Linked DNA regions of Homo sapiens. The protein of the gene in region 2 interacts with the protein of the main gene of each other region in a biochemical or structural test. Each region holds a gene or a part of one and is shown on either strand. Other genes may lie near its edges.

The links.
Region 1: the proteins of CSTA (region 2) and LORICRIN form a complex in vitro, tested with the Homo sapiens proteins (one study listed by BioGRID).

Annotation. Positions count from the first base shown.
Region 1 is NC_000001.11:153,258,047-153,261,793, reverse strand, and holds the start of LORICRIN (loricrin), read right to left. Parts: upstream 2,108-3,747; 5' UTR 2,061-2,107; intron 868-2,060; 5' UTR 845-867; coding exon 1-844.
Region 2 is NC_000003.12:122,331,720-122,335,366, reverse strand, and holds part of CSTA (cystatin-A), read right to left. Parts: intron 1-3,647. UniProt on the Homo sapiens protein: This is an intracellular thiol proteinase inhibitor. Has an important role in desmosome-mediated cell-cell adhesion in the lower levels of the epidermis.

The DNA.
Region 1 (3,747 bases), on a different chromosome or scaffold from region 2:
CGCCGCCGCCTCCAGAGGAACCACCTCCGCAGACGGAGCCCCCGCCACTGATGATGCAGCCGCTGCCAATCCCGGAGGAGCCGCCGCCGCAGCCGGAGCTCCCGCCGCCCCCGCCGCTGGAGAAGCAGCCGCTTCCGCCGCTGCCGCCGCCGCCGGACGACCCCCCTCCGTAACTCGGCTGGGGCGCGCACGAGGTCTGAGTGACCTGCTGCGAGGAGACGTAGCCGGAGCCGCTGCCGCCAGAGGAGCCTCCGCCGCAGCCAGAGCCGCCGCCAGAGTAGCCGCAGACAGAGCCGCCGCCCCCGCCGCTGGAGAAGCAGCCGGAGCCGCCCCCGGAGGAGCCGCCGCTAGAGACGCCTCCGTAGCTCTGGCACTGGACCGCCTGGCCCGAGAAGCCGCCGCCGCCGGAGGAGAAGCAGCCGGAGCCGCCCCCGGAGGAGCCGCCCCCACCGCTGGAGAAGCAGCCGGAGCCGCCCCCGGAGGAGCCGCCGCCACCGGAGGAGAAGCAGCCGGAGCCGCCCCCACCGCTGGAGAAACAGCCAGAGCCCCCGCCGGAGGAGCCGCCGCCTCCGGAGTACTTGACGCTCCCACCGGAGCCCCCTCCGCAGCCTCCAATGCCGCCCCCGCCCCCGCCGCCGGAGGAGCCCCCGCCGCAGCCGCCGCCAGAGTAGCCACCGCCGCCGGAGTAGCCGCAGCCAGAACCGCTGCTACCGCCCCCTGAGCCGCCGCCGCCGAAGAAGCCGCAGCCACCACCGCCGCTGCCGCCGCCACCGCCACCGCCGCCAGAGGTCTTCACGCAGTCCACTGGGGGCTGAGGGGTGGGCTGCTTTTTCTGATAAGACATCTTGTCTGAGAAGGAAGGAGAGCCTGGAAGGGGAGAAGAGAGCATCGCTGGACCAGCTGCAAGAGGATACTTACGGAGGCAGCTGCATCCATAGGCAACATCGCCATCCTCCCAGGGCTCCTTCAGGTGCCCGGAGAGCCCTCAGCGGGGTTTCTTATGATTGCTGCTTTTGGAAAAGTTGAGTTCCTCATTCCCCTGCAGAAAGCCTTCATTATGCTTTAAACAGCCCAGTTAGCAGTGCCCATTCTTTCTCCCAGCTCTGCCTCTGACCACTGTTGTGTGATTTGAGGGCAGATCACCCACACGCCCGCCTCTTTCTCATTTCCTGTTAAATGAAAGGGTTTGAACACTTCATCTTTCAGGCCTCTTCCAATCTCAACACTGATTCTCTGAGTGCAAATAGAAAACTACCACAAACCTCTACCTAGGATAGGAGATTTTACCCATTCCCAGCACAACAGAGAGAGGTTTGTCGGACTTCATTCTATTGAGGGCTGTTGCACTCCATCCTCTGCAGAAGCTCTTAGTTCAAACTCTTGGTCTGTCCCACTGAGCTAGGCCATGAACCAAGGGCTAGTCACTAGAAAAGACAGGCTCTGCTGTGGCCCTGCCTGGAAACAGGGGAAGGACCCTGGTGGTCCTTTGGACCAACATCCCCGACCAGAAGCTATTAGCCATCTCTTCCATGATTTTCTCAAGTCCAAGTTTGGTAGAAGGGACTTTGACTAGTAGGAAGTTGTATTTCCCTCTCAGAACTTCTAACTCTGTAAAACAGCAATTGGATTTCTGTGGCACCTGAAATCCCTCCCATCTGCAACTTTTTTGGATCATTCTCCCTACTCTCTTGAGAGTGGCTCAGCCTCTCCTCCTGACAGGTTCACAAGGTCTGCTCAGCCTGTGCACAGGCTGCCTTGGACAGCCTCTGCAGAGTCCTTCTGTGCCCGGCACCATGCCTGCCCCTATGCGGGTGCCAGAGAGGCAGGAGATAGTCTTGTCTTTGTGGAGTTTACATTCTGGCCAGAAGACCAGAAACACCATCTGCATGGCAGCAGCTCATCCCCTGCTCCTTTCCTGACCGCCCTCTAAATGTGAGTGCTTTTGGGAAGGCAGAGGTCCTATAGCTCCCAAAGGGGAAAGAGGCCCTGGTCCATCTAATCTAGTCAGGCCTGGGCAAGACCAGCTGGGAAAATGAGAGAGTCAGTAGAACCACACTTACCCAAAGCACCAGGAAGGGTGAGTGAGGAGAGAAGATGCTGGCAATGTGAGGAGCACTGATCTCCTGAGGTTATATATAGAGCTCTCCCTGACTCATTGATCCAGGCCAGCTTCTTGTGTTTGGCCTCAGTTACGTGACCCGTGGCTGTCGGCCCCACCTCCCTGTGATTGCAGGCACAGGATGGCCCATTCATGAAGGTTTTGGCATTCTTGAGATGGGCAGCCTGGTGTGTGACTGGCCCCTTCTCTGATGCAACAGTGTGGCAGGCTCATCAGTGGGGTCACCCAGTCAGAGTGGATGGCAGACATTGTTTCCAAAACCTCTGGCACAGGATGCATACCAGGTGACCACAGGGCTGTGCTTGAGGAATAGGTCCCAGAGTCTTGAGGTGCCCTAAGAGAGTCAAACTGAAGATCTCAGTGCTTTATCCAAGGAGTAGGACCTTCTAAATCCTACTGTTTGACTTCTGGTCCTGCTACTCTAAAAATCCTCAAAACTTTAGAACCCGTTACTCCTTTGCAAAAGTTTATCTCCCAGGATTTCATGTGTGTTTTGCTGGGGTGTTTCTGTCCTGCCCACTGGAGGCATGAGTCCCCAGCACCCAGCTCTGGACTGCACACCATAGACAGTGCTGTAACTAATGTGACGTGGGAAGCTACTTTGATTCATCCCCAGAGACAGCAGGCATTTGAGACAGTCTGAGAAGGGTAATCAATACTGACTTTCCTTGCAGCAGAGCAAACTAAAGAGATGGACCATGTGATCCCACAAAGGCTCTTTGGCTCTGTTGTCCTGTGGTGTTGTGTGGCAAAACACTGACCTTAGCCTGAGGGGCAGTCATTGAATGGGATAGACTTGAGATTAGGTGACAGATTGGGTGCTCCCTTTGCTACTTGCCAGCTGTGTCACCTTGGGCAGAGTCATAGCTCTTAGTGCAGTACCTGCACATGGGAGGCACTCAGTAAGTACTTATTGACTGTGGAATGATCAAGCTTTTTGACCCTCAGTTACCTTGTCTATCAAATAAAAATAGTAGTACCTATTTCACAGGCATGTGAAGGGAGAATAGTTATGTTAAGTGTAGAAGGTGATGCTGTCTTTTTTGTTGTTTTCTCATATAACAGCACATCCTTACTTCCAACCTGGCCTTCCCTTGGATACCAAGGCCAGAAAGGAGTCCATGGAGGGATTGGGCAAGTCCAATTCTTCTCCTAGGAGAATAACTCAAAACTTTCTTGTTGACTCTGGACCAGTAGCATCACCTCTGCGCATGCAGAACAGGATGCTGCTTCTTTCATAACCGGAAGTCAATTGGTATTGTTTAAGATACCACAGTCAAACTTTGTTCTGCCCAGTTATGTTTTGAAATGACAGCTCCAATAATAAATTCTTAATTATAGTGCACTTTTAATGATCCAGATGATCCTGATTAGACTGTGGCCATCAGAAACTTGTGGCACTAGTTTCAGTTTGGACAGCATAAACCCAGGTGAACCCAAGAGGAACTCAGGTGCTCTCCTCCTTAGAGGAGACCCAGTAGGGAGAAGACAGGATCTGTTGGAGAAGGCAAGTTTCTCTGCTTGAAGTTGAGGCAGTGTGGAGAATTTGGAGGGAAACAGGCCGCGATTAGTGATTGCTGTGGGTATAAGAAAGAACAGTTTTATTTAGCTGGGCCACATTGGAAAGA
Region 2 (3,647 bases):
TACCTGGATAATCCAGGATAACCTCTCCATCTCCAGAGCCTTAACTTAATCACACCTGCAAAGTCTCTTTTGCTGTGTAAAGGAACCTAGTCACAGGTTCCAGGGATTAGGACATGGACATCTTTGGAGGGCCATCATTCTGTCTACCATGGAGGGATATGGGTTGGGTTTAAATGTCAGCATTCCCGAACCCAGCATGAGAAGGGAGACAGTCCCAAATTCAATATGTAAACTTTTACTGAGCCCATCAACTTTCTGTACAGTGCTTCATTCCCACTCTCAGCTGGGCCTGATATGCAAGAGTCTACTATGAGCTCTTGACTCAGTTCCTGCTAAGTGTAAAGCTCGTCTTCTGCCGGGGTGGAGGACAGTGAGGGAGAAGGAACTATGGGAGGTCTCACTGTCCTTCATACAGATCAGTCCTCTTGCTTTTGGTCTGAGACCTTACTCCTGGCTACGACTTTTTGGTGTTGCTCATGCCTGCGCCATTGTGACGTTCTGCAGTGTGAATCTGCTTGCTTCTGGCTTAGACTTTCCCCTCTATGGGCTTAGCTTCTGTTTAGACTGCTCAGCATTTTCCATTGTTCATCTGTTTTCCAACTTCCAAAATTTTATTGGTATTTCTGAGGTGGTACTTGCCTATCTCCTGTTGTCTTTATGTCTGTGGATTTGTCCTTCAACCCCAATTCTTTTCTGTCTTTTGGAGGAAAAAGGATATAACTCTCTGTGTTGAATGTACCTTGTTTATTGAGAACTTGCTTTTATGCCCTTCATGAAAGCATTGCATGTCCATACAACTTCAATCAGGCCTCCAGTCCATCTAGGATTCTCCCAAGGCAGTCCTTCCTATCAGTGGGCAGGTTTTTTTTGTTTTTTGTTTTTTTAAATTTAAGAGACAGAATCTCCCCCTCACCCAGGCTGGAGTGCAGTGGCGTGATCATAGTTCACTGCAGCCTCGAATTCCCGGACTCAAACAATCCTCCCTGGGCAGATGTTTTGAACCTTTACTACTGATGCCTCAGTTTGAGTACCAGAACTGTTTTCAAAGATGTAGACATATGCAAACTGTGAGTTCTCAGACCATTTCTGAAAGGCCAAACACTCCACGGACCACCACTCAGTTCTCCTGTAACCTTGAGAATAGACGGGAAAAGTGTGATTGTTCTGTTGAGATGGAAATGAAATTTCAAAGTGGAGAAAGGGAGAAGACAAATAGTGAGGACAAACCAGAAGTGGGAAGAGCTAGGGGCAGGAGAGCGGAGAAAGGATGCACAGAGAAGTAGAGTAAGGAAACAGGTTATTGTCTTAGGGTCCCTTTCCAAAGCCTTTCAAAATTCCAAAGGAGGGATGGCCAGTACTTGGCACCAGTCAAGTTAGGAGCTGAGTTTGAAAGAGTTAATCTCTACACTAACCCCCAAAGTATCCATTTAAACCTCATTTTATGAATGGAGAATGTAAGGCTATGAGTTGAGCATGACTGCTTAAAGTTGAAAAATTATTCAACATAGTTATTTTAAAGTCCTTGCATGATAACTTATATATCTGATCTGTGTTCCTTCTGCTTTTCAGTCATGTTTCTTTTTAAGCACGTATCCTAAGCCAACCAGCCTTTCTTTTCTTTTCTTTCTTTCTCTTTCTTTCTTTCTCTTTCTTTCTTTTTCTTTCTTTCTCTCTCTCTTTCTTTCTTCTTTCTTTCTTCCTTTTTTCTTCCTTTCCTTTCCTTTTCCTTCCTTCCTTTCCTTTCCTTTTCCTTCCTTCCTCTCTCTCTCTTTCTTCTTTCTTTCTTTCTTTCTTTCTTTCTTTCTTTCTTTCTTTCTTTCTTTCTTCTTTCTTTTCTTTCTTTCTTCTCTCTCTCTTTCATGGAGTCTTGCTCTGTCACCTAGGCTGGAGTGTAGTGGCACAATCTCAGCTCACTACAACCTCTCCCTCCTGGGTTTAAGCAATTCTCCTGCCTCAGCCTCATGAGTAGCTGGGACTACAGGCATCTGCCACCACTCCCAGCTAATTTTTTATATTTTTGGAGAGATGGAGTTTCACCATGTTTGCCAGGCTGGTCTCAAACTCCTGGCCTCAGGTGATCCACCCACCTTGGTCTCCCAAAGTGCTGGGATTACAGGGGTGAGCCCCCATGCCTGGCCCTAAGTTTTTATTTCTATCTGTCCTAGAAATATATCCAAATCTTTAACTTTTCCATCGTATCTGTGTAATCCACAAATGCAGAATTTTCCATGAGAGAGGGGATTTAAAAGATCTGGTTTGTTTCTTGAAGTGTTCTGGCACCTGTCAGACTGTGGACCTTGATTTCTGGTTCACTCTACTTGTAACTTGCAGCCTCCCTCCCTCTTCCCAGTAAAATAGATTTGCATGGTTTAATGTTAGATGACATGGACCTGAGTGATGAGATTTGAGCTGAGGAGCAGGGAAAGGGGCAGAGTAGGGGAGCTTGTCAGTGAAACTTAAGTCTCAGAAGGTAGCTTGGTGCTGAAAGACTCCCCAGGATGGGCACTAGGAGGATGCAGGCCAGCTGGGAACGGTGGTGGGAGACTGGCGGTGAACGGACACATCTCCTGCTGAATGCAGTTGGCCTTCACCTTTCTCAGTCTGCCACGCGTGATGGTGACGGGAGCTCAAGGAATACAGTGGAGGTTTGTCGCTTGGTCTCCAGCCGGGGAGGAGGCTACCAGGGAGAAGCACCTGGTATAATGCATTTAACCCAGAGTTCTTCAAGCATTTCTCATTGCTACTGAGCATGAATCTTGGTGAGGTGTTTATTCTCTGAGATCTGAGGATTTGAGCCATGAGGCACCCAACACTCAGGCTTTTCCCCTAATCTGTAGTCATTCTACAGAAACAATAGGACTGTGCCTAATTTAATAGAAAATAGATAGAAAGATATTGATGGCAAAGTGGATGAATTACATTTGGGGGAGATTTAGAGAGTAAGGAAGGAGAGTTTGAATAGTAACATGAAAGGACAGTAGGGCCAGTAAGATGTGACTTGTGGACATTTATTGTCTAAGTATGTTTTGAAGGAAGAAGGAAGTATGGGACAAGGCATTGAGGATGCAAGAAATGAAGTCACCTGGCTAAGAGAGGAAGGACTGGCTGAAGAGAGGAGAATAGAGTCTAGGGAGGAATGAGATCCAGCAAGAGATAGGGTCAGCTGGGGCATTTTCTTACCAGAGATCTGCAATCTCCTAAGACAGGTGTTCCCAACCCCTGGGCTGCAGACCAGTACCCATCCATGGCCTGTTAGGAATCGGGCTGCACAGCAGGAGGGGAGCAGTGGGCCAGTGAGCATTATGGCCTGAGCTCCGCCTCCTGTCAGATTAGCGGCAGCATTAGATTCTCATAGGAGTGGGAACCCTATTGTGAACTGCATGCAAAGGATCAAGGTTGCGTGCTCCTTATGAGAAAATAATGCCTGATGATCTGAGGTGGAACAGCTTCATCCCAAAACTATCCCCTCCACCCCATCTGTGGAAAAATTGCCTTCCACAAAGGTACCAAAAAGGTTGGGGACAGCTGGCCTAAGAAGAGTAGGAACTGAGACATCCTGCTGGAGGGACCATGGGGGTGGGAGGCAATGAACAACTGAAGAGAGATTTACATTTGTGGGGTTTCTAGAAAAAGACCAACAAATATGA